7 separate regions of the Homo sapiens genome follow, and regions 1, 2, 3, 4, 5 and 7 are each reported to be linked to region 6. The links are microRNA targets in miRTarBase. Many come from high-throughput screens and were not tested one by one. Region 6 holds a microRNA gene; each other region holds the end of a gene's coding sequence.

Region 1 (4,075 bases), not on the chromosome of region 6:
TCAGATATTAAAATGAAAGGTGTCTTAGCACTTTGTACTTCTGCTTGATTTTGCTGTGAACCTAAAACTGCTCTAAAAAAAAAAGTACATTTAAAAAATATGTAGAGAGCTTAACTGTTACCCTGAGTTCAGAATCTGCTGTAGAGACTTTTGCTATGTATGATCATTTCCTGGGTGACAATGTATGTTTCTGTGTTTTTCACTGAGGAAGCCAGGAGCCAAAATAATACTTATATTTCTTTTACAGGATCCTACATTTCTGGAAAAAAAAGAACGCTGTGATTACCTAAAGAATAAACTTTCTCACATAAAGCAAAGAATTCAAGAATATGATAAAGTAATGAATTGGGATGTACAAGGTTATTCTTAACGCTTATTTGAAACCACTTTATTTTTTTATTTTATTTTATTTTTTTGAGATGAAGTCTCGCTCTGTTACCCAGGCTGGAATGCAGTGGCACAATCTCGGCTCACTGCAACCTCCACCTCCCGGGTTCAAGCAATTCTCCTGTTCAAGCAATTAGCCTCCCCAGTAGCTGGGATTACAGGCGTGCGCTGCCACACCCCGCTAATTTTTGTATTTTTAGTAGAGACGAGGTTTCACCATGTTGGTCAGGCTGGGAAACTACTTTTTTTAAAAAATAGCAAGTTTACTATTTATTTACTGCCTTTTTAATGCTAGCCTCTGTGGTAGAGAAGCAAGCGCTTCCCAAATCAGCTTCCAATTGGTTTAACCAGTATGCAACATTAAAGATTTTACTCAGACATTTTTAAACGAATTCAAATGTTCTAAGGGCCTTTACTAAGAATGGAAAAAATCCTGTGTTCATCTTTCATCTGTGACCAATTTCATATTCATCTATCTCATTTAAATGTGTCATCATTTTAGAGATCGTATCCTGGCAGTGTGATGGGCAAGTGGACCATCAATTCTGGTGCTACTTTTTCCTTTTTTACTCAGGCAGGTTCCTAGGATTTTTCTGGGACAAATTTCTCTTCCTAGAGAAATTCCTAGGGGATTTCTAAAGGATTTTTCTAAGGGAAAAAGGGTGACATCTTTCAAAGGTGTCATTTATTCCCTTGAAAGGTGTTTGAATCCCAGATCAACATTTTCAGACATCCTGATCTTGGGCAAATTGCTTAATCTCTCTGTGCCTGTTTCCTCTTCTGTAAAATGGGGCTAATAATAGTTCCTTCCTCATAGAGTTGTTAGGATTAAAGGAGTTACTAATATGGTAGGAACTATATTAGTGTTTGTGAAGTCTACTGAAGTGTTTGTGAAATGAATAAATTATAAAGAATGAGTCTCAAGAAAAGGTCCTTAATGAGCAAGCCCAACCTACTTAACCAAAAGCCCAAGTGTCTGGTGCCTTTCTGGTTTGTGGTGTTAACTCATGGCCTTAGCCTGGTGCTTCACTGTGGCTCTGTGGCCCCTGGGGTTCCACATGGCCTCCCTGTCTTTCATCAGTGTGACTGTACATCTCTCCATCTCCCCATAGTCCAGCCTGCCCTGGACACATTGAATTGTATGAATGGTATTGCTTTTTTTTTTTTTTTTTTGTGAGACAGAGTCTTACTCTGTTGCCCAGACTGGAGTGCAGTGGTGCGATCTCGGCTCACTGCAAGCTCCGCCTCCCAAGTTCACGTCATTTTCCTGCCTCAGCCTCCCGAGTAGCTGGGACTACAGGCACCTGCCACCACGCCCAGCTAATTTTTTTGTATTTTTAGTAGAGATGGGGTTTCACCGTGTTAGCCAGGATGATCTCGATCTCCTGACCTCATGATCCACCCGCCTCAGCCTCCCAAAGTGTTGGGATTACAGGCGTGAGTCACCGCGCCCAGCTGGTATTGCTTTTCTATTCCCTTTGGACATACATGCTACAGTCCCACAATGTAGCATTTCCTTGGAAACTCCCTTTTTTTTTTTTTTTGAGATGGAGTTTCGCTCTTGTTGCCCAGGCTGGAGTACAGTGGTATGATCTTGGCTCACTGCAGCCTCTGCCTCCTGGGTTCAAGCGATTCTCCTGCCTCTGCCTCCCAAGTAGCTGGGATTACAGGCACCCACCACCATGCCCAGCTAATTTTTTGTATTTTTAGTAGAGACAGGATTTCACTATGTTGGCCAGGTTGGTCTCAAGCTCCTGACCTCAGATGATCTACCAGCCTCGGCCTTCTGAAGTGCTGGGATTCAGGTGTGAGCCACTGTGCCCAGCAGGGATGCTTCATCTTTCTAAGAATTATCTTGGCTTTGGACTTTATTCATAAATGTTTTATTTCTGTTAGTATGAACAATAGACTGCCTTAACAAAGTTTTTTTTTAAACAAAATCGTTCTTGTTGGATTTTATTCAGCAGCATCTATCATGTAGATAAATTCCCAGGTGTAGCATTACAGCTTCTGACTAATATAGCTGCCATTCAGACAATTAATGTTCAAAGAGTTTTCTAAAGTGATAAAACCAAAGAAAAGCATGTGGAAAAGCAGAAGCTTAGAAAGTTGTGGTCACTGAATGCACTCCCTGGTTTTTATTTGTCAGTGAAATCTTTATGCATTCATTGTTAATATTTTAATTCCATGGCTTTGTAGGCTGTGCTGTGTCTGAAGGGGTAACACCTAGGGAAACATGAGGCCCCTTATGGGACCCCCCAAATGGAACAACTTCACTTTCTCTTTTATGTATTGAGCCCTGTGTTAACATTTCACTTAAGAAGAGCACCAGTGCTTTAAAAAAAAAAAAAGGTAAAATATTACCATTTTGATAGACTGTAAAGAGTTAGATTCCTGTTGAAGTGTTAAGGAAATTTAACTTTGTGAAACTTTTAAAATAAAGTTTATAAATGTAGCTAATCTTTGAAAAACCAATGCAGTAACACTGATTTGTAAATGTTGTGGTCAATCCCTAGGTGCATTAAAGTTTCAGTCACCTGCCGTGTGTGTGTGTGCCCTTTTATGTTTGCCTTCCTAGCATTCCTGTGTTCACTGTGCATGTTCTTGAAAATATTTTCACTTGTCAGAAAATAAACTGGAAAGTCATTGAAAACCCGTAGGTCACGATGCTCAGGTGACTCACTGTTTCTCCTTCCCCCATTATTCGCAATAATTCAAAGTCCAGGCCACTATATTAGTTTCCTAGGACTGCCATGACAATGTACTACAAACTGAGTGGCTCAAAACAACTGAAGTGTGTTGTCTCACAGACCTGCAGCCTAGAAGTCTGGAAGCAGGGTGTCAGCTGGGACATGCTCCCTCAAAAACCTGTAGGGGAGTCCTCTTCTAGTTTCTGGTGGTTTGCTGGCCATGTTTGATGTTCCTTGGCTTGTAGATGCATCTCTCCAATCCTCCATTCTCGCATGGCCTTCTCCCTGTCTGGCCATACCAGTCATATTGGATGAGAGGCCCACCTTCTCCAGCATGACCTCCTGTGAACTCATTACATTTGCTAGGACGCTATTTCCAAGTAAAGTCACGTTCTGAGGTACTGGAGGTTAGGAACTTCAGTGTTATCTTTTTGAGAGGCCACAGTTTAGCCTGTAATAGCTACATTTGGCAAGTTACAAGATTCAGAAGGAAAAGTACTTCCCTGTACATTTTCTTTCTTCCATATTATTTTTTCTTTTATTTTTTGTGATGGAGACTCACTCTGTCGCCCAGGCTGGAGTGCAGTAGTGTGATTGGCTCACTGCAACCTCTGCCTCCTGGGTTCAAGCTAGTCTCCTGCCTCAGCCTCCCAAGTAGCTGGGATTACAGGCACTCACCACCACACCCAGCTAAATTCTATATTTTTAGTAGAGACAGGGTTTCATCTTATGTTGGCCAGGCTGTTCTCGAACTCCTGACCTCAAGTGATCTGCCCGCCTCGGCCTCCCAAAGCAATTCCCCTGCCTCAGCCTTCCAAAGTGCTGGGATTACAGGTGTGAACCACTGCACCCAGCCCTTCCATATTATTTCAACATGTATTCTAATTTGAAAATTAATATGAGGATATGTCAGTATATCTAAAACTTGAAAAAAGTATATGCCAGTTATATGTCAAATGCTTTTATTGTCCCAGATATGTTAGCATTAAAGATACTGA
Region 2 (4,075 bases), not on the chromosome of region 6:
CGCGCAGCGAGACCTTCCGCGACACGTACCGGCTCTGGCGGCTCTGGTACGGCACCGGGAGGAAACCCTACAACCTGGACGTGACGCAGCTGACCACGGTGTGCGAGGACTTCTCCAACTCCGTGTCCACCGGCCTCATGCGGCCCCCGTGGCTCAAGGGCAAGTACATGTTGGTGCGCTACGAGGACCTGGCTCGGAACCCTATGAAGAAGACCGAGGAGATCTACGGGTTCCTGGGCATCCCGCTGGACAGCCACGTGGCCCGCTGGATCCAGAACAACACGCGGGGCGACCCCACCCTGGGCAAGCACAAATACGGCACCGTGCGAAACTCGGCGGCCACGGCCGAGAAGTGGCGCTTCCGCCTCTCCTACGACATCGTGGCCTTTGCCCAGAACGCCTGCCAGCAGGTGCTGGCCCAGCTGGGCTACAAGATCGCCGCCTCGGAGGAGGAGCTGAAGAACCCCTCGGTCAGCCTGGTGGAGGAGCGGGACTTCCGCCCCTTCTCGTGACCCGGGCGGTGCGGGTGGGGGCGGGAGGCGCAAGGTGTCGGTTTTGATAAAATGGACCGTTTTTAACTGTTGCCTTATTAACCCCTCCCTCTCCCACCTCATCTTCGTGTCCTTCCTGCCCCCAGCTCACCCCACTCCCTTCTGCCCCTTTTTTGTCTCTGAAATTTGCACTACGTCTTGGACGGGAATCACTGGGGCAGAGGGCGCCTGAAGTAGGGTCCCGCCCCCCCCCCCCCCATTCAGACACATGGATGTTGGGTCTCTGTGCGGACGGTGACAATGTTTACAAGCACCACATTTACACATCCACACACGCACACGGGCACTCGCGAGGCGACTTCTCAAGCTTTTGAATGGGTGAGTGGTCGGGTATCTAGTTTTTGCACTGTCTTACTATTCAAGGTAAGAGGATACAAACAAGAGGACCACTTGTCTCTAATTTATGAATGGTGTCCATCCTTTCCCCATCCCTGCCTCCTGCCCCTGACGCCCATTTCCCCCCTTAGAGCAGCGAAACTGCCCCCTCCTGCCCGCCCTTGCCTGTCGGTGAGGCAGGTTTTTACTGTGAGGTGAACGTGGACCTGTTTCTGTTTCCAGTCTGTGGTGATGCTGTCTGTCTGTCTGAGTCTCGTGGCCGCCCCTGGACCAGTGATGACTGATGAATCTTATGAGCTTCTGATTGATCTCGGGGTCCATCTGTGATATTTCTTTGTGCCAAAAAGAAAAAAAAAGAGTGGATCAGTTTGCTAAATGAACATTGAAATTGAAATGCTTTATCTGTGTTTTCTGTAAATAAAAGAGTGCAATAATCTCTGTGTGTGATTGCAGGACATTCTGAATGGGTACGAGAGGGCCTCAGCCGGGTCTGGGTGTTCCTAGCTTTGGGGAGGACAGCGAGAGAGAGGTGGAGGTGGGAATTAAATGACAAGTCTGCCTTTCAGAACTCTTGTCACCCTCAACACTGAGTTTAGTTTAGGTTTTTGTTTTGTTTTGTTTTGAGACAGAGTCTCGCTCTGTCACCCAGGCTGGAGTGCAATGGCGCCATCTCGGCTCACTGCAACCTCTGCCTCCCAGGTTCAAGCAGTTCTCCCGCCTCAGCCTCCCGAGTGACTGGGACTACAGGTGCACACTGCCACACCTGGCTATTTTTTTTTTTTTTTGGATTTTAGTAGAGACGGGGTTTCACCGTGTTGTCCAGGCTGGTCGCGAACTCCTGAGCTCTGGGCATTCCTCCTGCCTCAGCCTCCCAAAGTGCTGGGATTGCAGACTTGAGCCACCTCACCCAGCCGTTTTTTTTTTCCTTCAGTCAGTTGAGACCGGGTAACTTATAGCCAGGGATAATGTTCAAAGTCTTTAACAAGTGGTATGGCTTGCTGAATCAGAGTAGCTGGAGGTAAGAATGACATCCTGGAATCCCTTCTTGTGCTAAATGTTACCCATTTAGTTGGTGGGTCTGGGTCTAGGATAGCCAGGGAGGGGGAAACTTCAAGGGGTGGGGTGCCTCAGGGCAGTGGCTGCTGACCCACAGACCTGGAAGTATTTGACTATTTGAATAACTGGTACAGGTTTACTGGTGTCTACACTGGCAGAGAATCTGCTGTGCTTCCTCCCCTTCCCTTCGTGGCAATCTAGCAGGTTGCTCCAGGCAGCTTCCCCAGCTCTTATTCCAAGAAAACCTGCCCCTGGGGTGGCTGCAGGTCACAGCTTTGTTGTCCTGGGACAAAGGAGTGTCTGGTGATTAGGCAGCCCCAGGGGTCCTAGCCAACTGGAAGAAGGGCTTCCTGAGGAAACACAGTCCTGGGCTATTTTATATGTGTCAGGAGGATGTAGACAGTTCAACAGCTCTAGCAAATGCCTTAACTAATAGTGGCTTAATCAAGATAGGTGATTTTCTTTTGTAAAAAATTTTACTGGGGTAAAATAACAGAATGTAAAATTTACCATCTTAACCTTTTTAAGGTGTACCATTCATTAAATACATTCACAACGTGTGCCACCATCCAGCTCTGTAATTTTGCTCATTTTGTAAAACTGAAACTCTGTACCCATTAAACAAAAACTCCCCACCTACCCACCCACTTCCAGTGCCTGGAAACCACCATTCTGCTTTCTGTCTCTAGGAATTTGACTACTCTAGTACCTCATGTAAGTGGAACCATACAGTATTTGTCCTTTTATGACTGGCTCATCTCACTTAGCGTGATGTCCTCAAGGTTCATCCATGTTGCAGCATATGTCAAAATCTCCTTTCTTCTTAAGGCTGAGTAATATTCTACTGTATGGACATACCATATTTTGCTTATCCGTTCATCCCTAGATGAACACTTGGGTTGCTTCCATGTCTTAGCTACTGTCAGTAATGCTGCTGTGAACATGGGTGTACAACTGTCTCTTGAGACCCTTCTTTCCATTTTTGGGCATATCCCCAGAAATTGAATTGCTGGATCATGTGGCAGTTTTATTTTTAATCATTTGAGGAACTGCCATACTATTTTCCACAGTAGGTGAACCATTGTACATTCCCACCAACACGGCCCAAGGGTTTCAATTTTTCCACAACCTCACCAATTCTTGTTATTTTCTTTCTCTTTTTGAAAGTTAGCCATCCTAATGGGTGTGAGGTGGTCAGATAGTTTATTTTCCTTCACTCTCATTTAAAAGGCATAAGCTGTTCAGGTCTGGTATGGTGGCTCCCAGGTCATGTGCCCAGATTTCAGGGTCCTGCCTCTTTCTATGTTGTTGCTCCATCTTTCTAAGGTGTTCCCCATGGCTATGTGGTCCTAGATGGCTTGCTAGGCAGCAGGAAGGAGAAAAACAGGAAAGGATGCTACACCTCTGCCATGTATGAGCACAACCTTAAAATTATAGACATCACTTTCACTCATGTCTAATTGGCTACAGCCTGGCCACATGGCCATTCTTAGCTGCAATGGAGGCTGGGAAATGTAGTCTTTTATCTGGGTGGCCATAACTGTTAAGGTGGCTGATGAGTCCAAAGCTGATCTCCCTGAGATTCAGTTTCTCTTCTGCACAAGACAGGCAGGCTAATTTACACTGTCATTCTTTAAGACCAGGCAGCTGACTTGGAAAAGCCTCTGTCAGGACTGGTGGCCAGGTCCTGGGTCTCTTCTCAGCCTGTGATCCACAGGAGCTGCTTCTCCAGGGTGCGATGAGGAAGTTGACTCATCAGTTGGCTTCATGGCATCAGTGCCCAGATAGGCCTCACTCAGTGCCCCTGGCTGGCTGTTCCAATACCCAGGGAAAGCCTGCTCCAATGGCCACAGCTGGCTGACCCTTCCCCTCTTATAGTAAGTGATGCTGGGACAATTGTCTTCACCTCTGACTGCTCTGTGGTGGATTGTCCCTGAGCCAGAGACTTCTTTCCTCTGGGTAGGTGGCTTCAGGTTGGAAGTGGGAGACACTGGAGATCTTGGCCTTGCTGGAGAGAAACTCTCCCCTCAACTGCCGTAACAGAAGACTTTAATAAAGCTGGCTGGAGCTTTCAGAGGAAAGCCCTGTCTAGTGATGGATTCATTCATTCATTCATTCATTCATTCATTCAT
Region 3 (4,073 bases), not on the chromosome of region 6:
GCAAAAGCAGATGTGTGGCCCAAAACTGCTCCAAAGAAAGGTGAGGATGGTCCACTGGTGAAGGGGGAGTTTGGCTTCTTTCCATAAAAGGCTGTTTCTAGAAAAAGAGTTGTTTCTATAGTTTTAACACTGGTATTTTTTAGATGAGAACAGCTTAGTTCCTCCTGCCCCTGTGGACAGCGACGGGGAGAGTGATAATTCAGACCGTGTTCCTGTGCCCAGTTTTCAAAATTCCTTCAGCCAAGCTATTGAAGCAGCCTTCATGAAACTGGACACACCAGCTACTTCAGATCCCCTCTCTGGTAAGGGCAGAGGCTGGAGTGCCCAGGGTTGTCAAACATACTACACATGTACTGCCATTCCCGCCTGGATTCAGTGGCAGACATCACTAATTAGGCTCTTTCCCTTCTGAACCCTTCAGCACACTCTAGTGTCATTTAAATAATACTCCATTTGGTATGTCAGATAGGACCTATTTGCCACCCCAGAGAAATTGATGACGCCTGAAAGTGAAATTCTGAGGAACTCTTCCAAGATACAGTGGGGTGTACAACCTGTATCCTTTAGAATCTTGAGTTGGTACAGGGTGGCTAATTAGATGGAGAAGTCAGTCTCGAAGCCTGTTGCACTCTGTTCATGACTAGACAAGAATCACATATGTATGGCGTGCTATGTGCCTAGCACTGTGCTAATTCTCCCAACAACCACGTTAAATGGGTGTACCTCACGTTACAGATGGGGAAACTGAGGTCCAGGGAGGTAAAAGTGATTTGCCCAAAGACACCCACTTGGTGTATACCAAGACTGGTATTGGCATCTAGGCAGTCTAATTCCAGAGCCTCCACTCTTAGCTCCCACTCTGTGACTCTCAGTAATGAAAACTGGCCAGGGGACAAGGGATGGCATTTTAAGTTAAGCTGTCTTTCTGTGTCTCCCTTTAGAAGAGAAAGGAGGAAAGAAAAGAAAAAAACAGAAACAGAAGCTCCTGTTCAGCACCTCAGTCGTCCACACCAAGTGACACTACTGGCCCAGGCTACCTTCTCCATCTGGTTTTTGTTTTTGTTTTTTTTTCCCCCATGCTTTTGTTTGGCTGCTGTAATTTTTAAGTATTTGAGTTTGAACAGATTAGCTCTGGGGGGAGGGGGTTTCCACAATGTGAGGGGGAACCAAGAAAATTTTAAATACAGTGTATTTTCCAGCTTCCTGTCTTTACACCAAAATAAAGTATTGACACAAGAGATCTCTTCCTGCCAAGGTTTTTAGTTCATTGCCAGTTTAGTCTTTTTGACCCATGTGTAATTAATTTTTCTCAACCCAAAGTAAGATTGAGTCCCCTTTGAGATGCATTAGAGCAGTCCAACCCAGAATGGCACACACTGCTCTGCTGTAGCATCATGTCAGGGCTTCCTGGACTCAGTACACCTCTCAGTTTGTCTTTTAAAAAACAGCTGAATCTTTACTACCTATTTAGTTCTCCTTGTTAAAGAAACAGGGGTGGGAATAAAATGGATTTAGGACACCCAGTTTGAATTGCAGTTTTTTTTTTTCTGACACATGGCCAGGCTGTGGTGCCAGCTTAATGGAGTAGGCTGTCCTTGGCACTTGCATGTGTGAAAGGAGGGTTTTGCCTCTTCTTGAGCATGGCTTGAGTTGGTAAGGAAAGCTGTAACTCACGAAGCCCTGAGACCTGCTACCCCTAAGATCGAGCTTGTTTTCAGTGACTGGCTTGAGTCATAGGAGGAGGAGTCTGGTACAGCTGCAGGAGAGCAGGGCCATCTGAAGCGGTAGCATTGCCACCATCTCCCTCTCATCTAGAGCAGTTTTCTTATGCCTTGGTTTGAGCTGAATTTGATGTGAATTCTTTTGCTGCTTAATAAAGTGACCTCTAGGTGCATTAGAATGCGAAGGCAAATAGTTGCAATAAATCACCTGCACAAGCATTGTGAGCTTTTTGTTTTTTTAAGTTCATTACAGGTAAGCTAGACAAGTTATTTCTTGAATAGGTTAACGTGACAGCTACTATGATATTGTAGGCTGTCTTTTCTGGTGTCAGGTTTAAATGGTTCTAGAGCTGGGCTTAGCTTTAACCTGCCATTTTAAAAGAAATCCTATCAGGAAATTTCCTGGATGGATGAGGGTGTTCTGGCCTCCAGATGAGGGGGCATGTTGAAGCCAGAATCACCAGTGTTTCTGTTAAATGTGTATGGTACTTTCAGTCTCATCCATTGTATTATGGAGAAAACAGATCCCAGAAATGTCAGTAGGTAGCAGATCAAACCTGGATCACAAGTCTCCCGCCATTCCTACTTCCTGTGAGTATGGCAGTCTGACTTGTCTTCAGGGCGCCTTGTATTCAGGCGCAATAAGAGCGGAACTACAAAAACTACCTTAAGTTCCTTAAGTGGACAGCTGCTACATGACCATGCAGTAATGATGTCAGATGAGGCCAGCACCCGCGCCCCCCCCAACTGCAAAGGTTGCATTTTTTGTTTGAGACAGAGTCTCGCTCTAGCCCAGGCTGCAGTACAGTAGTGGGATCTCAGCTCACTGCAAGCTCTGCCTCCCGGGTTCACGCCATTCTCCTGCCTCAGCCTCCTGAGTACCTGAGATTACAGGCACCCACCACCATGCCCAGCTAATTTTTTGTATTTTTAGTGGAGACAGGGTTTCACTGCGTTAGACGGGATGGTCTTGATCTCCTGACCTTGTGATCTGGCCGCCTCAGCCTCCCAAAGTGCTGGGATTACAGGTGTGAGCCACTGCGCCCGGCCCAAAGTTGTATTTTTTAAGTTACCTGATTAACTATTGGCAAGGAATCTGGTATCTGTAAGACCCTGTGGTTCAGTACTGAGATGGGCTGTAGATCTCTGCCAGTTCAGTTGCTGTGTCTCAACTAATATTTCTATTCCAAATGACTTGGCTTGCTTAGGGCCCATCATGGGGCCGGGGGTACAAAGCTTCAGGTAGAAGGCTAAGTATTGAAAATTTAGGCCAGGCACAGTGGCTCACCCTTTAATCCCAGCACTTTTGGAGGCCAAGGTAGGCCGATCACTTGAGGCCAGGAGTTCAACAGCAGCCTGGCCAACATGGCAAAACCCCGTCTCTACTAAAAATACAAAAATTAGCCAGACGTGGTGGTGCACGTCTGTAATCCCAGTTACTTGGAAGGCTGAGGTGGGAGAATTGCTTGAACCCAGGAGGCGGAGGTTGCAGTGAGCCGATACTGGGCCACTACACTCCAGCCTGGGTGATAGACTGAGACTGTCTCAAAAAAAAAAGTTTAACTAGTACCACATAGGGAGTCAGTCTTCCCACCAAGGCTAGGGATAGAGAGAGAACAGAGACTTGGCCAAGCATGGACTCCATAAGCCCTTTCTGTAATATAAGTATGCTAAATGCCACGGAAACCAGATACATTTATTAAATCTACTCTTAGCCAAGCAATAAAGATGTCTACAGAGTTCACAACCTGCAACACTTCACCAGGGAATGCTAGGTAAAGGCAACTTCAGTTTAACTGAGTACTCCATTTCAAGTGGGTAATGTCTGCTGGTTGGCAGCTATCCAGTTTGGAAAACTGTGGAAGATGCTGTTGCTACCCAGATTGTTCTGTTCAACAAGTGGGCCTGAAGCCTGAGCAGTGTAGCCAGCTGTGTGGGGAGCAGAGGTTCACTCCATTGCTTCTGCAGCCTCCTCACCTGACTCCTCCTCCTCCTCTAATAAGCAGCTTCTTGTCACAGACTTCTGGATAGCTTCCCGCTCTCCTGGAGAAGGCAGATAACAGGGATGAAAGATATCTTTGGGAGTGATTTCTTCAGCTTAAGGTCAGTCACTGCTCAGTGGGCACTGGGCTAGTGTTGCTTACCTTCATCAGTGCAGTTCTGCAACAAGATCAACAGCTGTCTCCTGTTGTACTGAATTAGGAACTTCTGACATGTTCTTATTGTACCTGGCATATGAGTTACTGTGGTCAACAGCTTGTGAAAGATCTCGACCTTACAGACTTTCAGAGGTAGGGGGAAGTGTCTTGTTAGCGGGACAGCAGCAAGACCCACCCACCAGTTTAGACTGAA
Region 4 (4,075 bases), not on the chromosome of region 6:
GACTGCCTGTTATAGCTATTAAATGGAAACCCCAGAATTCATCCTGAATGTCTCTGAATGTGAAAAGTCACATGCGTTAATTTAATTCAGTATAAAATTTCCATGTTCTCCCACAAGGAGGATTTCAGCAGTGTCTTCCCAGCATGAAACCATGTCTTATCACTCCACCAGATTCAGAATTGGTACTAATTCTGACAGAAGCTGAAACTAAAGCCTATGTTTTCTTTAGTCAACATAAGGCCTTTTTTCAGAGATGGTGTGAATTAATAGTTTAAACCACCAAAATAAAAGAATAGACAAGTATTTTCTTAACATATCCATTTCCATTGCTAGAGCTGCGGTGATCAGCAGAAGCATCTGCCTGGCTGTCAATATCAAGGTGGATCCAGGCTGTTGGAACTGGTGGATCCAGGGGTTGGAACGGAGGAATACTAAAAATGAGACTTGGAACTTGGAAGGCCTACACCACGAGGGCCAATTCTGCCATAAGCCCTATTGCCCAGATATGTTACATAAAACATCCAGATATTACAGTGAAAGTCAGTGTGTGGCCAGACACAGTGGCTCACAATTGTAATCCAGCACTTTGGGAGGCCGAGGCTGGTGGATCACTTGAGGTCAGGAGTTTGAGACCAGCCTGACCAACATGGTGAAAACCCCATCTCTACTAAAAATACAAAAATTAGCTGGGCATAGTGACACAGGCCTGTAATCTCAGTTGCTTGGGAGGCTGAGGCAAGAGAATTGCTTGAACCTGGGAGGCGGAGGTTGCAGTGAGCCGAGATCGTGACACTGCACTCTAACCTGGGTGACAGAGTGAGACTCCATCTCAAAAAAAAAAAAAAAAAGTCAGGTGAGAAGAAGTAGCACATAGTGAAAATGAATATAATAATTTTACAGCTGGTCGGGCTCAGTGGCTCATGCCTGTAATCCCAGCACTTTGGGAGGCTGAGACAGGAGGACTGCTTGAGCCCAGGAGTTTGAAACCAGCCTGGGCAACATAGTGAGACCCTGTCTTTAAAAAATAAAATAAAATAATTTTACAGCTTTTGGTTCTCCTGTATTATACAGCATAACTAGGAGAAAAAAAAACTATGAAATTATTTTCCCAAGACCAGTTTTACTCATCTTTATCACATTTGTTTGATGTGGGTTATCCAGGAGCCACCTACATCAAGGTGGATCCAGGCTGTGGTCTTGCATTGGGTAACAAAGCCCTTCCCAGAGGGAGGAGTCACACCATTGGGTCAAGAGTCATGAATGGGTATTTTTACATATTTATTAAAACAAGTTTCCTGAGAAGTTTGACTAGGCTATGTTGTTGTTAACCTAGTTTGCTTAAAATGTACGAAAATGCAATCAAACTTACATATCTTTTAAATATTCGAAAGTCAGATTTTGTTCTGATTGCCCTATCCAATTAGGGCAAATTAGTGAGGGTTTTTTTGGTTTTTGTTTTGTTTTTTTAACAATAGTCTGAAACATAAAATTAAGTTTGGGTTTAAAAACAATTCTTGAAACTGTCATAAACATATGATATCTATTGATTAAACAGTAATAAAAAGACACAAGGTACAAGAATTGAGGCTTGGCTGTTCTGGCTGTATACTAACTTCATATACCCTGACAGAATAAACTATCTTTTTAAAAAGTGCTTTGTACACTGCACAATTATAGCTTTACCAAATAAAAACTCAATGACATGTCGCTGAAATTTGCTTCTTCTAGAATTTGAAATTATTTAAAATACTGCATGAGAATATTTTTATCATATTATATAATATGACTTCATCAACATGAAGTTCCAGGACCCCAGATGCCTCTCTGAGAAGTTCATTATTTGATAGGGTTGGATCAAATGTAAAGGCCCAGGTGTTCAAAGATCTTAGATACCTAAAGAGAGAAAGGGGCAAATGGAGGCTCTTCTGAGAGTCAAAATGTTGATGAGAAACAAACTGAAAGTAGCACACATAGGCAGAAAAATAGACAAGTTATGATTCAGAAAACAATTGTATGCAATTTTGGCATAAATATCTGAGAGTCACTGTGGGCCATGAGTTGAAAAGGAACATGCAAGAGAGCAAGGAAAACACAAAGCCTCATTCAGATGTGCTGGTGAGAATATGACAGAAAATCTGTTGAAGTTGTGTACCATGAAGTCTGTCTTTTGTCAAAGTTCTATGCAGTCCCAGGATAGCGTGATAGCAGTGGTTAAACACAACCAGCTAGTTATAGCTTTCATTGTATGGAAAGACCTCTCTGGTCTGGAACTCTGCCTTTGAAATTATCCACGTAGTTCAGAAGGCAAATACTTGTTAAAGGGATCCCAAAAGGTAGGAGACAAGTAGTTTTTGTTATGCATTAGGGCAGACTTTCAAGCACAAGACACAAAATTGAGCAGCAAATGTTTGGGTAGTCCCATCTCCCTTCGGTTTATATGTGGGTAGTAAAATAAATAAAATTTTCCTTCTTTGTCTCTTTCTTGAAATAAAATATCAGGTATCCAAGGAGAGCTGAGGATTCTCAATTTGCTAGATTGCTTTAAAGGGGTCAGATTTAGAAAATTAAGGAATAAATGAAGAACAATTTTACTGGAGTAGGTGTGGTCAATAGGCCCTTTTCCATTTTGTGCCATTGCTTTTAGCACAAGGATGTCAAAAATATCACATAGAATGTCATCTCTGATGGACTGACAGAGACCTCCTGTTGTGCTGTGTTAGGACATGAGGCTTATCCCAGCTTGGCGGGAGAGAATGCTAAGCATGATGAGTGAGATCTGCCACAGGCACGGATATTTCCTGCTCCTCTTCTGTTTGTTTCAAACCACCTTCAGGATCTCTGAAACATAGAAGGCTGACAGATGACTCCCACCTGCACATACTTCCTACCTACATGTCACATCCAAGGGAGGTATGGTGAAACAAGTGTGAGCTTTGCAGAAATGCTGACAAGCAAGGGAATTTCAGCTGAGGAGAACATTAGTTCTTTCACTGAAGATTCCTAGTTTCTCTGAGAAGTTCTTAAGGGTGACCAGACCTGGCCATGCTAGGGTCTACAAGTTACCAAACGCCACCTCATCAGGACTGTGGACCCCTCTCACTGTGTCTTCTTGGCAGGCAGAGCTTACTGACCCCCTGGGATGGTGTATTCATTAAAATACTTGCTGTGTTTGGTGTCTTTTCCATGACATAACACTCCTCGAGAAAAGTTCCTGCTGAATGTAGTTTACCTGTCCCACGACTTGAATAATCAGAGGAAATTATCCAAAGCTGGTTACTGACCCAAAAGGAAACCATCGATAAAACAGCTTCCTGATTTAGGCCCTAAGGAATGAAGCAGAAAGGTGACGAACATTTATCATGACCAGAGTGAGTTCAGTGAGCTAGAAGTTGGCTGAGAGGAGGCAACACATGTTGATCAGAAGTGAGCACATCACCCGCCTCCTTCTCCACCCTCAGAGGCAGCGATGGATGGCAGCCAGGCCTTTTCCTAGTACTTCTCAATTGCACATTCTTCCAAGTGCAAGTGATGCCATCATTAGGAAGAGTGGGCGTTGGAAGAAACAGCAAAAGGTTCTTGTGTCTATGTTGATTTGAAATTAATTAAATTTGTATCCTCTTCATCCTCTGTTGGCAGCCTCAGCAGACTCCCTCAGGGGCTGCTTCTCTTGGAAAACATGAGCGCCATTCAGGTTTAGGATTCACTGTCACTGTAAAAAAAAAAAAAAAAAAAAAAAAAAACAAAAAAAACACACACACACACACAAAACAGTAATATATTTCTTTCTTTTTTTTTTTTTTTTGAGACGGAGTCTGGCTCCGTCGCCCAGGCTGGAGCGCAGTGGCACAATCTCGGCCCACTGCAAGCTCCACCTCCCAGGTTCAGGTCATTCTCCTGCCTCAGCCTCCTGAGTAGCTGGGACTACAGGCACCCACCACCAAGCCTGGCTAATTTTTTGTATTTTTTTTTTTTTTAGTAGAGGCGGGGTTTCACCATGTTAGCCAGGATGGTCTCGATCTCCTGACCTTGTGATCTGCCCACCTTGACCTCCCAAAGTGCTGGAATTACAGGTGTG
Region 5 (4,000 bases), not on the chromosome of region 6:
AGGGGATGTGGTGAAAGGGGAAGCAGAACTGGGGTTGGGTGGGCTGGAATCCCCCTGCAGCTGGGGCAGGAGCTGATTTGCAGTTGGGGCCTGAATTCTAGATTTCTAAAGACTCCGGGAAAGATGGTCCAGGACAAGCACAGCCACCTGGAGCCGCTGGAGAGCCAGGAGCAGGACAGAATAGAGTTCAAGGACAAGAGGCCAGAAATCTCTCCGTGAGGGGCAGGTGGACTCCAGGCACCCGGTACCGATGGGGCAGGGACCGAGTCTCCCATGAAGGCAGACTCCTCCTCCCAGCAGAGCAGCAGGATCCCCAGCCAGACTCTGTACCCACAGGATTACAGCCATTGCTTGGGAAGGCTGGGAGGCCTCCCATCCAGGACACTGGGGGCAGGAGTGTCATCTTTTGGGCAGGGCAATCCTGGGGCTAAATGAGGTACAGGGGAATGGACTCTCCCCTACTGCACCCCTGGGAGAGGAAGCCAGGCACCGATAGAGCACCCAGCCCCACCCCTGTAAATGGAATTTACCAGATGAAGGGAATGAAGTCCCTCACTGAGCCTCAGATTTCCTCACCTGTGAAATGGGCTGAGGCAGGAAATGGGAAAAAGTGTTAGTGCTTCCAGGCGGCACTGACAGCCTCAGTAACAATAAAAACAATGGTAGCTGATGTTTCTTTCTTTTATTTTTTTGAGACAGTCTTGCGCTGTCACCCAGGGTGGAGTGCAGTGGCACGATCTCGGCTCACTGCAACTTCCGCCTCCTGGGTTCAAGAGATTCTCGTGCCTCAGCCTCCGGAGTAGCTGGGATTACAGCTGCCCACCACCACACCCGGCTAATTTTTGTATTTTTGGTAGAGACACAGGGTTTCACCATGTTGGCCAGGCTGGTATCGAACTTGCGACCTCAGGTGATCCTCTTGCCTCAGTTTCCCAAAGTGCTTGGATTACAGGCGTGAGCCACTGCGTCCAGCCGATGTTTCTTAAGTGTTTGCTATGTGCCAGGCCTTGTGCTAAGGGCCTTGTGGATATCTTATCTCATTTAATTCACTCGGCATTCAGGCGTGAAGATGAGGACACTGAGGGAGAGGCTTGTGGAGCTGGCCCGCCTCTCCACAACCCAGGGCTTCGACCTGTTTTCTTTCAGCACCTCTGACTGTATGTGGATGCTTCTTAGCCAGGCCCCGGCCCCACCTCTCTGCTCTTGGCATCTTCACTGAATAGTCCATTTCACTTGGCCCAGCCCCCTCATCCTCAGTTTTCAGTGACTACGACCCAGTGAAGACTGGCCCCCGTCCCCACACTTGTGGCTTCCTATGCTCCTGTCCCTGTATCTGCTGTGGGACTTTGGGCAAGGTGTTCCGCCTCTCTGGGGCCTCAGGTTTCTCGTCTGCAAAATGGGGCTCCTTCTCCTGACCTGACCTCTGGGGTTGTCGGAAAGCTTCCATAAGGCAATACTTGTGAAATGCTTAATGTTTGCCTGCTCTGTGGGGCGTGCTTCACCTGTGTTAGCTGAGAAGACTTTGCAGACCAGAAGCTGCTCTGAAGCATGAAAACACCTCGGTCCAATGGGTCAGCTTCTCCCTCTGTGCCCTAGCCCCAAGTACTGATTGGGGCCTCCTGAGGGCCAGAGCCTCTGCCCTTGCAAGCCGTCAGGTAAAGCTCAGGTAGAAGGAGAAGGGAGTATTTTCATTTAACCAAGAATAGAACTCCTCGGATTCATATCTTCTTTCTCAGAAGGAGGAAACTACCTCAGCCTCTTGCCCCCAGCCGGTCAGGAAATCCCCGTCTCTGCTGGCGCCTGCACTGGCCTTGAGTCACTGCAGAGAAGTCCTTGATAAGGACTCTTGGACTTTGGGGCTCAAAGCTGTGATAGCCCATGAGCAGGGAAACTCCAGGCTTAGTCCTATCTGGGACCCTCGATGGTACTCACCGGCAGGGGGGCAGGCAGGTGGCTTTGGAAAAAGGATCGATGGGAAAATGCTTTGCCCCTTTCACTTTCCCTCTGAGACTGTTCCAGCTCCTTGACTTTGCTCTGCGATGAGCCCATGCCCCATGGCCTCTCTTATTGAGAGATGACAGCGTGCTGGCAGTCCTCACAGCCCTCGCTCGCTCTCGGCACCTCCTCTGCCTGGGCTCCCACTTTGGCGGCACTTGAGGAGCCCTTCATCCCACCGCTGCACTGTGGGAGCCCCTTTCTGGGCTGGCCAAGGCCAGAGCCGGCTCCCTCAGCTTGAAGGGAGGTGTGGAGGGAGAGGCACGAGCGGGAACTGGGGCTGTGCGCGGCGCTTGCGGGCCAGCTGAACTTTCGGGTGAGCGTGGGCTTGGCGGGTCCCGCACTCGGAGCAGCCGGCCGGCCCTGCCAGCCCCGGGCAATGAGGGACTTAGCACCCGGGCCAGCGGCTGCGGAGGGTGTACTGGGTCCCCCAGCAGTGCCAGCCCACCGGCGCTGCGCTCGATTTCTCACCGGGCCTTAGCTGCCTTCCTGCGGGGCAGGGCTGGGGACCTGCAGCCTGCCATGCCTGAGCCTCCCACCCGCTCCATGGGCTCCTGTGCGGCCTGAGCCTCCCCGACGAGCGCCACCCCCTGCTCCACAGCGCCCAGTCCCATCCACCACCCAAGGGCTGAGGAGTGCGGGCTCACGGCGCCGGACTGGCAGGCAGCTCCACCTGCAGCCCCAGTGCAGGATCCACTGGGTGAAGCCAGCTGGGCTCCTGAGTCTGGTGGGGAGGTGGAAAACCTTTATGTCTAGTTCAGGGATTGTAAATACACCAATCGGCACTCTGTATCTAGCTCAAGGTTTGTAAATACACCAATCAGCACCCTGTGTCTAGCTCAGGGTTTGTGAATGCACCAATCCACACTCTGTATCTAGCTGCTCTGGTGGGGCCTTGGAGAACCTTTATGTCTAGCTCAGGGATTGTAAATACACCAATCGGCACTCTGTATCTACCTCAAGGTTTGTAAATACACCAATCAGCACCCTGTGTCTAGCTCAGGGTTTGTGAATGCACCAATCGACACTCTGTATCTAGCTACTCTGGTGGGGCCTTGGAGAACCTTTGTGTCCACACTGTATCTAGCTAATCTGGTGGGGAGGTGGAGAACCTTTGTGTCTAGCTCAGGGATTGTAAACGCACCAATCAGCACCCTGTCAAAACAGACCACTGGGCTCTACCAATCAGCAGGATGTGGGTGGGGCCAGATAAGAGAATAAAAGCAGGCTGCCCCAGCTAGCAGTGGCAACCCGTTCTGGTCCCCTTTGACACCGTGGGAGCTTTGTTCTTTTGCTCTTTGGGTCCACGCTGCTTTTATTAGCTGTAACGCTTAGTGCGAAGATCTGCAGCTTCACTCCTGAAGCCAGCGAGCCCACGACCCCACCGGGAGGAATGAATGACTCCAGATGTGCTGCTTTAAGAGCTGTAACACTCACCGTGAAGGTCTGCAGCTTCACTCCTGGAGCCAGCGAGCCCATGAGCCCACGGGGAGGAACGAACGACTCCAGACGCGGTGCCTTAAGGGCTGTAACACTCACCGCGAAGGTCTGCAGCTTCACTCCTGAGCCAGCGAGACCACGAACCCACCAGAAGGAAGAAACTCTGAACACGTCGGAACATCAGAAAGAACAAACTCCAGATGCGCCACCTGAAGAGCTGTAAGACTCACCGCGAGGGTCCGCGGCTTCATTCTTGAAGTCAGTGAGACCAAGAACCCACCAGTTCTGGACACATTATCACCTCCTCACCCCAGAGCTGCATACCTGGCTTAGGAGGGACTGTCGAAATGAATTTATCCAGGCCCTCATTTTACAGAGAAGGGAACTGCCGCCAGAGCGAAGTGACTTGCGCAAGATCACATGGCCCAGCCCAGCTTCTTCGCTCCTGAAGCCACCTCATTTCCTCTTCTCAGCATTGTGGTTGGGTCCAAGATGAAGCAGGAGGATGGATTCCTAGATCACTTCTTCCAGTTATAAGTGGTGTTTGCCTGCTGGTGGGTTGATG
Region 6 (4,075 bases):
AACCAAAACCCAGGTGGCGCTGGGGCAGGACTGCAGGGAACTGGGGTATCAAGTAGAGGGAGACAAAAGATGGAAGCCAGCCTGGCTGTGCAGGAACCCGGCAATGAGATGGCTTTAGCTGAGACAAGCAGGTCTGGTGGGCTGACCATTTCTGGCCATGACAACTCCATCCAGCTTTCAGAAATGGACTCAGATGGGCAAAACTGACCTAAGCTGACCTAGACTAAACAAGGCTGAACTGGGCTGAGCTGAGCTGAACTGGGCTGAGTTGAACTGGGTTGAGCTGAGCTGAGCTGAGCTGGGCTAAGTTGCACCAGGTGAGCTGAGCTGAGCTGGGCTTGGCTGCACTAAGCTGGGCTGAGCTGGGCTGAGCTGGGCAGGGCTGGGCTGAGCTGAGCTGGGCTGGGCTGAGCTGGGCTGGGCTGGGCTGGGCTGAGCGGGTCTGAGCGGGGCTGAGCTGAGCTAGGCTGGGCTGGGCTGAGCTGGGCTGAGCTGGGCTGAGCTGGGCTGAGCAAGGCTAGGCTGAGCTGGGCTGAGCTGAGCTGGGCTGAGCAAGGCTAGGCTGAGCTGAGCTGAGCTGGGCTGCGCTGAGCTGGGCTGGGCTGCGCTGAGCTGGGCTGGGCTGAGCTGGGCTAGGCTGGGCTGAGCTGGGCTGAGCTAGGCTGGGCTGGGCTGGGCTGAGCGGGGCTGAGCGGGGCTGAGCTGAGCTAGGCTGGGCTGAGCGGGGCTGAGCTGAGCTAGGCTGGGCTGGGCTGGGCTGAGCCAAGCTGAACCGGGTTGAGCGTGCTGTGCTGGGCTGAGCCAAGCTAGGCTGAGCTGAGCCAAGTTGAGCTTAGCTGGGCTGAGCTAACCTGGGCAGGGCTGAGCTGGGCTGAGCTAACCTGGACTGGGGCTGAGCTAACCTGGGCAGAGCTGAGCTGGGCTGAGCTAACCTGGGCTGGGGCTGAGCTAACCTGGGCTGGGCTCAGCTGAGCTGAGCTACGCTGGGCTGGGCTGGGCTGAGCCGAGCTGAACTGGGCTGAGCAGGCTGTGTCGGGCTGAGCCAAGCTGGGCCGAGCTCAGCAGAGCTGAGCCGAGCTGAGCTTAGCTGGGCTGAGCTAACCAGGGCTGGGCTGAGCTGGGCTGAGCTGAGCTGAGCTGAACTGGGCTGAACGGGCTGAGGCGAGCAGGGCCGAGCTGAGCAGAGCTAAGCCGAGGCTGGGCTGGGCTAACCTGGGCTGGGCCGAGCTGAGCAGAGCTAAGCCGAGGCTGGGCTGGGCTAACCTGGGCTGGGCTGAGCTGAGCTGGGTTGGGCAGGGCTGGGCTGGGCTGAGCTAAGCTGAACTAGGGTGAGCTGGGCCGAGCCAGGCTGGTTTGGGCTGAGTTGAGCTGACCTGGACTGGGGCTGAGCTAACCTGGGCTGGGCTCAGCTGAGCTGAGCTACGCTGGGCTGGGCTGGGCTGAGCCGAGCTGAACTGGGCTGAGCAGGTTGTATCAGGCTAAGCCAAGCTGGGCCAAGCTCAGCAGAGCCGAGCCGAGCTGAGCTTAGCTGGGCTGAGCTAACCAGGGCTGGGCTGAGCTGGGCTGAGCTGAGCTGAGCTGAACTGGGCTGAACGGGCTGAGGCGAGCAGGGCCGAGCTGAGCAGAGCTAAGCCGAGGCTGGGCTGGGCTAACCTGGGCTGGGCTGAGCTGAGCTGGGTTGGGCAAGGCTGGGCTGGGTTGAGTTGGGCTGAGCTAAGCTGAGCTAGGGTGAGCTGGGCTGAGCCAGGCTGGATTGGGCTGAGTTGAGCTGACCTCAACTGAGCTGACCTAGGCTGAGCTGAGCTGAGCTGAAGTAGGCTGTGCTGGGCTGAGCTGGGATGACCTGGGCTGGGCTGAGCTGATTTGGGCTGGGTTGAGCAGACCTGGGCTGAGCCGGGTTGAGCTGAGCTGAACCAGGATGAGCTGGGCTGAGCTGAGCTGGGCTGGGTGGTCCAGGCTGGGCTGACCTGGACCAGGCTGGGCCAGGTTGAGCTGGGCTAAGCCGAGCTGAGCTGAGCTGAGCTGGGATGATCTGGGCTGGGCTGGGCTGGGCTGAGCTGACCTGGGCTGGGCTGGGCTGAGCTGAGCTGAGCTGAGTTAAGCTGAGCTGAGCTGAACTGGGCTGTGCTGAGCTAGGCTGGGCTGGGCTGAGCTGGGCTGGGCTGGGCTGAGCCAGATTGTGCCTGGCTGAACTGAGCTGGGCTAAGCTGAGCTGGGCTGAGCTGGGCTGAGCTGAGCTGGGCTGAGTGGGGCGGGGCTGAGCTGAGCCGGACTGGGCTGGGCTGGGCTCAGCTGAGCTGAGCTGAACTGGGCTGGGCTGAACTGGGCTGGGCTGAGCTGAGCTGAACTGGGCTGGGCTGAACTGGGCTGGGCTGAGCTGAGCTTGGATGAGCTGGGCTGAACTGGGCTGGGTTGAGCTGGGCTGGGCTGAGTTGAGCCAGACTGATCTGGGCTGAGCCGAGCTGGGTTAAGCCGAGCTGGGTTGGGCTGGGCTGGGTTGGGCTGGGCTGAGCCGGACTGGGTTGGGCTGAGCTGAGCTGGACTGGGCTGAGCTGAGCTGGTCTGGGCTGGCTGAGCTGAGCTGTGTTGAGCCAAGCTAGGCTGGGCTGGGCTGAGCTGGGCTGAACTGGGCTGAGCGGAGCTGAGCTGAGCTGGGCTGGGTTGAGCAGAGCTGGGGGCTGAGCTGGGCTGGGCTGGGCTGAGTTAAGCTGGGCTGACCTGGGCTGAGTTAAGCTGGGCTGACCTGGGCTGAGCTAAGCTGGGTTGAGCCGATCCGGGCTGGGCTGGGCTGGGCTGAGCCAGGCTAGGTTGAGCTGGGCTGGGCTGGGCTCTGCTGTGCTGTGCTGAACAGGGCTGAGCTGAACTGAGCTGAGCTGGGCTGAGCTGGGCTCTGCTGTGCTGTGCTGAGCAGGGCTGAGCTGAACTGTGCTGAGCTGGGTTGAGCTAAGCTAGGCTGGGCTGGGCTGAGCTGGGATGAGCTGGGCTGGGCTGGGCTGGGCTCTGCTGTGCTGTGCTGAACAGGGCTGAGCTGAACTGAGCTGAGCTGGGCTGAGCTGAGCTCTGCTGTGCTGTGCTGAGCAGGGCTGAGCTGAACTGGGCTGAGCTGGGCTGAGCCGGGCTGAGTTGAGCAGAGCTGGGTTGAGCAGAGCTGGGCTGGGCTGGGCTGAGTTGAGCCAGGCTGACCTGGGCTGAGCCAAGCTGGGTTGAGCCAAACTGGGCTGGGCTGGGCTGAGCCAGGCTGGATTGAGCTGGGCTGGGCTGGGCTAAGCTGGGCTGTGCTGCACTGAGCTGGGCTGAGCTGGGTTGAACTGTGCTGAGCTGAGCTGGGCTGTGCTGAACTATGCTTAGCTGGGCTGGGCTATACTGGGCTTAGCTGGGCTGGGCTAAACTGGGCTTAGCTGGGCTGGGCTATACTGGGCTTAGCTGGGCTGGGCTATACTGGGCTTAGCTGGGCTGGGCTATACTGGGCTTAGCTGGGCTGGGCTGAGCTGAGATGGTCTTAGGTGGTCTGAGCTCAGCTAGGCTGGGCTGAGCTGGTCTGAGCTCATCTGAGTTGGGCTGAGCTGAGCTTGGCTTTGCTGAGCTGGGGTGGGGTGGGCTGGGCTGGATTGAGCTGGCCTGGGCTGGGATGAACTGGATTGAGCTGGCCTGGGCTGGGATGAACTGGAGGACATGGCACTGGGCCAATCTTCATGATCTTGTTGGACATAGATGGATAGCCTCAGCTGAGTCTACACTGCGTTCCCCATCACACTCACCCTCCCTATACTCACTCCCAGGCCTGGGTTGTCTGCCTGGGGAGACTTCAGGGTAGCTGGAGTGTGACTGAGCTGGGGGCAGCAGAAGCTGGGCTGGAGGGACTCTATTGGCTGCCTGCGGGGTGTGTGGCTCCAGGCTTCACATTCAGGTATGCAACCTGGGCCCTCCAGCTGCATGTGCTGGGAGCTGAGTGTGTGCAGCACCTACGTGCTGATGCCTCGGGGGAAAGCAGGCCTGGTCCACCCAAACCTGAGCCCTCAGCCATTCTGAGCAGGGAGCCAGGGGCAGTCAGGCCTCAGAGTGCAGCAGGGCAGCC
Region 7 (4,070 bases), not on the chromosome of region 6:
GCTGCTTTATTTATTTATTTATTTATTTATTTATTGAGAACATGAGAGTGCCTTTTCATTTTAAAAATGTTTGGAAATATGCACAACTTTGATACAGCTTTGGGGTGCTCCAGACACCCATGGCCACTTCATGTAAACCACTGAGAATTTCTTTTTTTTTTTTTTTTTTGAAATGGAGTCTTGCTCTGTCACCCAAGCTGGAGTGCAGTGGCACAGTATTGGCTCACTGCAACCTCCGCCTCCTGAGTTCACGGGATTCTTCTGCCTCAGCCTCCCAAGTATCTGGGATTACAGGCGCGCACCACCATGCCCAGCTAATTTTTTGTATTTTTAGTAGAGTCAGCGTTTCACCATGATGGCCAAGCTGGTTTCAAACTCCTGACCTCAAGTGATCCACCCGCCTCGGCCTCCCAAAGTGCTAGGATTACAGGCGTGAGCCACCACGCCCGGCCACCACTGACAATTTTTAGAGTACTTTGAGAGACTATACAATATCATGATCAAATTTTGTAATTAAACCTAATGAGGACAACAGGCACTTCTCAAATAAGAGATGTGTCCATTACGGGGCTCCCCTACTCTTAAGGTACTCACAAGGAGGCAGATAAACAGTTTCTTTTTTTTTTTCCTTTGAGATGGAGTTTTGCTTTTGTTGCCCAGGCTGGAGTGCAATGGAGCGATCTCAGCTCACTGCAACCTCCACCTCCCGGGTTCAAGCGATTCTCCTGCCTTAGCCTCCTGAGTAGGTGGGGTTACAGGCATGCACCACCACGCCCAGCTAATTTTTTTTTTTTTTTTTTTTTAAGAGACAGGGTTTCACCTTGTTGGTCAGGTTGGTCTTGAACTCCTGACCTCAGATGATCCGCCCGCCTCTGCCTCCCAAAGTGCTGGGATTACAGTCTTGAGCCACTGTGCCTGGCCAGATAAACAGTTTCTTTATTCATCCTCCTCCTCTTCATCTTCCTCTTCCACCTTTTTCCAGGCAACTTTAGCAGGACCCTTTGCATCATCAAACCAACCTTTCTACTTATAGTCAGGAACATCCTTCTTATACTTTTCCTTCAGCTTTGCTACCTTAGTGATGTCATTTAAGTTATTTCACATCTCACCCAGAAAACCTAGCTTCTTAATAGAATAGGAATAGTGCCTATTTCTTGGGATTGTCATGAGGGTTACATAATGCTGGTATAAGATGCTTTAGCATAGTGCCTGGTACCTAATAAGTCCCCAGTAAGCATTAGCTACTAAAAGGATAATTTTATTTACTTATTTGAGGTGGAGTCTTGCTCTAGATCCCAGGCTGTAGTACAGTGGTGCAATCTCGGCTCATTATAACCAACGTCTGCCGGGTTCAAGCAATTCTGCCTCAGCCTCTCGAGTAGCTGGGATTGCAGGTGTGTGCCACCACACCCAGCTAATTCTTTGTATTTTTTAGTAGAGATGGGGTTTCACCATGTTGGCCAGGCTGGTCTTGAACTCCTGACCTCAAGATCCACCTGTCTCAGCCTCCCAAAATGCTGGGCTAAAAGGGTTTTGTTTTTTTGTTTTTTTTTTTTGAGACATCTCCTCACTCTGTTACCCAGGCTGGAGTGCAGTGGCACGATCTCGGCTCACCGTAACCTCTGCCTCCTGAGTTCAAGCGATTCTCCTGCCTCAGCCTCCCGAGTAGCTGGGACCACAGGCACGTGCCGCCATGCCCAGCTAATTTTTGTATTTTTAGTAGATACAGGGTCTCACCATGTTGGCGCTTCTCTCTGCTTTTTAAAACCAACCAAGAAGCACTGATGAGCTTATCTATGATAGTCCCTCTGGCTGCTGATCACCCCACCCTGCTGTCCTGTCAAACTGCTCCTGACTCCACTCCTTCCTGGACTAGGAGAAAGGCCACAGTTACTCTGTAAAGATCACATGTAACATGTGTTCCAGCAGCTGAAAAGAGCACCAATACTTATATCTGGGTTTACACCCCAGTGTTAGAAAGCTTTATTTGGGCCAGGCACGGCGGGTCATGCTTGTAATCCCAGCACTTTGGGAGGTTGAGGCGGGCAGATCACCTGAGGTCAGGAGTTCAAGACCAGCCTGGCCAACATGGTGAAACCCTGTATCTACTAAAAATACAAAGATTATCCTGGCATAGTGGCGCACCCCTGTAGTCCCAGCTACTGGAGAGGCTGAGGCAGGAGAATCGCTTGAACCCAGGAGGCGGAGGTTGCATTGAGTTGAGATCGCTCCATTGCACTCCAGCGTGGGCAACAACACAGAAATTCTGTCTCAAAAAAAAAAAAAAAGCTTTATTTGGTGTTCTGACTTTAATAACAGCAGCCTTTTTTTCAATTGCAGTCTTGCTTGGGAACCACAGGATAGACAAAAGAGGAGCAACTTGGTTGACTAGGCTGTGGGGCTTTGACCCCACTTATTTAATCCCCTCAGTGGCAGCTCCAATAAATCCTGACCAGATCCAGAGATTGGGGACCACTTTACATTTCTAAATTAATGTTTTACAATAATCCTCGTAGTTATGACCTTTCATAGAACAGGGCTGAGGTTTGTAACATGCTGGAGTTCAACCAGGATCTGTGACTCAAAGCACACTCCTTTTACTACTAGTAAGTCAGCCTCCTAAGCTTGTTTAACCAGAGGTTAAATAATGGCCACAGAAAGCATTGTGGCATATGTTAAGTGCTAGATGCCCCTCCAATCTCGCTCCAAGGACAGGAGTCCTGAGTGTCCACTATAGGCATCCATTACTTCAAGACTTCCCAGGATAGTTCAGATTTCAAGAATGTCCCACGGTTATCCCTGGAAGTACACTCCAACCTGACACCACATGACCTGTTTTGAAAATGTGGTTGGCCGGGCGCAGTGGCTCACGCCTCTAATCCCAGCACTTTGGGAGGCTGAGACGGGTGAACTGCCTGAGGTCAGGAGTTCGAGATCAGCCTGGCCACATGGTGAAACCCGCCTCTACTAAAACTACTAATATCAGCCGGGCGTGGTTGCGGACGCCTGTAATCCCAGCTACATGGGAGGCTGAGTAAGGAGAACAGCTTGAACCCAGGAGGCAGAGGTTGCAGTGAGCCAAGATTGCGCCACTGCACTCCTGCCTGGGTGACAAGAGCAAGACTCCATCTCAAAAAAAAGAAAAAATGTGGCCGCGGCAGGGCGAGGTGGTTCACGCCTGTAATCCCAGCCCTTTGGGAGGCCGAGGCGGGCGGATCACCTGGGTCTGGAGTTCGAGACCAGTCTAGCCAACATGGTGAACCCTGTCTCAACTAAAAACACAAAAGTTAGCTGGGCTTGGTGGCGCGCACTTGTGATCCCGGCTACTCGGGAAGCTGAGGCAGGAGAATTGCTGGAACCCAGGGGCGGAGGTTGCAGTGAGCCGAGATCGTGCCACTGCACTCCAGCCTGGGTGACATTGACTCCGTCTCAAAAAAAAAAAAAAAAAAAAAATGTGGTCAGATACCTATCGGGATCAGCCTCTTCTGGTGGGGTGGGACAGGCAGCAGCTCCAGGCCGCGCCCCCAGCACCGACCACGCGTCTCTAAGCATTGGTAGGTGTCGACTGCAGGGCTCATTCTGGGTGGAGGAACATGATTTTATTGGTTCTTTCAGTTCACCACATCCGACTCGCGTCTCGGCCCTGGCCCGCCTTGCGGACCTTAAAGCAGTCAGTCCAGGGTTTGGGGGAAACGTGCTCACCCGACGGCAGCTCACAGGACCCCGGAGAGTCCTGGCATGGTATCTCGGTCCGGACTCTCCGCTGGGCCCACGAAGGAGAAAGGCTGCCTCGGATTCCTGCGCCCAAGCCAAGGTCCGGCGCCCACGGAGGCAAGTCCGGTCTCACGGTGACCTCCCGCCGGCGCCGCCTTCGCCGCCAACCATCCAGTTCTTCCTCCAGGCCACGTTCTCCTGCGTGGTCGCTGCCTCCTGCAGAGTGGCCAGCAATAGCTGCTGGGTCCTGGCCGCCTCCTCCCTGCTCCTTGGGTCCTGCAGTGGCATCTCCTGAGGGCAGGAAGGGGAGTTCGCAGGAGCTCCAGTCCGGGGCTCTCCACCCGCCCACCCTTCCT

What was found. Region 6 holds the annotated microRNA hsa-miR-4537 (UGAGCCGAGCUGAGCUUAGCUG, at 1,069-1,090, shown strand). A microRNA usually pairs through its seed, bases 2 to 8, with sites in the 3' UTR of a target mRNA and lowers its output. Matches are read on the target gene's strand: a 7mer-m8 pairs with bases 2 to 8, a 7mer-A1 pairs with bases 2 to 7 and ends in A, and an 8mer does both.
Region 1: miRTarBase lists MARVELD2 as a target of hsa-miR-4537. Seed matches in the 3' UTR shown: 8mer at 466-473 and 8mer at 1,612-1,619.
Region 2: the mRNA of CHST1 is a reported target of hsa-miR-4537. Seed matches in the 3' UTR shown: 8mer at 1,559-1,566.
Region 3: miRTarBase lists POP5 as a target of hsa-miR-4537. Seed matches in the 3' UTR shown: 8mer at 3,214-3,221.
Region 4: miRTarBase lists TMEM154 as a target of hsa-miR-4537. Seed matches in the 3' UTR shown: 8mer at 775-782.
Region 5: the mRNA of ETV7 is a reported target of hsa-miR-4537. The part of its 3' UTR that is shown has no 7-base or 8-base seed match.
Region 7: miRTarBase lists UQCC3 as a target of hsa-miR-4537. Seed matches in the 3' UTR shown: 8mer at 3,379-3,386.

The regions. Positions count from the first base shown.
Region 1 is chr5:69,441,285-69,445,359 of GRCh38, forward strand. It overlaps MARVELD2 (MARVEL domain containing 2), which reads left to right. Exons shown (of 7, transcript NM_001038603.3): 7 at 248-3,046. The coding sequence ends at 370. Among named protein-coding and RNA genes, the nearest start is that of MARVELD2, 28 kb to the left of the region's middle. RefSeq lists a silencer at 326-523.
Region 2 is chr11:45,646,125-45,650,199 of GRCh38, reverse strand. It overlaps CHST1 (carbohydrate sulfotransferase 1), which reads left to right. Exons shown (of 4, transcript NM_003654.6): 4 at 1-2,511. The coding sequence ends at 512. Among named protein-coding and RNA genes, the nearest start is that of CHST1, 17 kb to the left of the region's middle.
Region 3 is chr12:120,575,649-120,579,721 of GRCh38, forward strand. It overlaps POP5 (POP5 ribonuclease P/MRP subunit), which reads right to left. Exons shown (of 5, transcript NM_015918.4): 4 at 3,866-3,949; 5 at 3,116-3,764. The coding sequence ends at 3,670. It overlaps RNF10 (ring finger protein 10), which reads left to right. Exons shown (of 17, transcript NM_014868.5): 15 at 1-40; 16 at 144-302; 17 at 942-1,940. The coding sequence ends at 1,018. Among named protein-coding and RNA genes, the nearest start is that of POP5, 3.7 kb to the right of the region's middle.
Region 4 is chr4:152,624,853-152,628,927 of GRCh38, forward strand. It overlaps TMEM154 (transmembrane protein 154), which reads right to left. Exons shown (of 7, transcript NM_152680.3): 7 at 1-3,709. The coding sequence ends at 3,694. Among named protein-coding and RNA genes, the nearest start is that of TMEM154, 53 kb to the right of the region's middle.
Region 5 is chr6:36,362,864-36,366,863 of GRCh38, reverse strand. It overlaps ETV7 (ETS variant transcription factor 7), which reads left to right. Exons shown (of 8, transcript NM_016135.4): 8 at 102-670. The coding sequence ends at 219. Among named protein-coding and RNA genes, the nearest start is that of ETV7-AS1, 22 kb to the left of the region's middle. RefSeq lists an enhancer at 1,450-1,499.
Region 6 is chr14:105,856,547-105,860,621 of GRCh38, reverse strand. MIR4537 (microRNA 4537) reads left to right here and starts at 1,069; the gene lies at 1,069-1,138. MIR4539 (microRNA 4539) reads left to right here and starts at 3,050; the gene lies at 3,050-3,109. It overlaps MIR4507 (microRNA 4507), which reads left to right and starts at 2,447; the gene lies at 2,447-2,498. It overlaps MIR4538 (microRNA 4538), which reads left to right and starts at 2,380; the gene lies at 2,380-2,457. It also overlaps IGH.
Region 7 is chr11:62,671,888-62,675,957 of GRCh38, reverse strand. UQCC3 (ubiquinol-cytochrome c reductase complex assembly factor 3) reads right to left here. Exons shown (of 2, transcript NM_001085372.3): 2 at 2,272-4,005. The coding sequence ends at 3,844. It overlaps LBHD1 (LBH domain containing 1), which reads left to right and starts at 3,691. Exons shown (of 7, transcript NM_024099.5): 1 at 3,691-4,070. RefSeq lists a silencer at 3,482-3,611 and enhancers at 3,852-4,011, 3,378-4,070.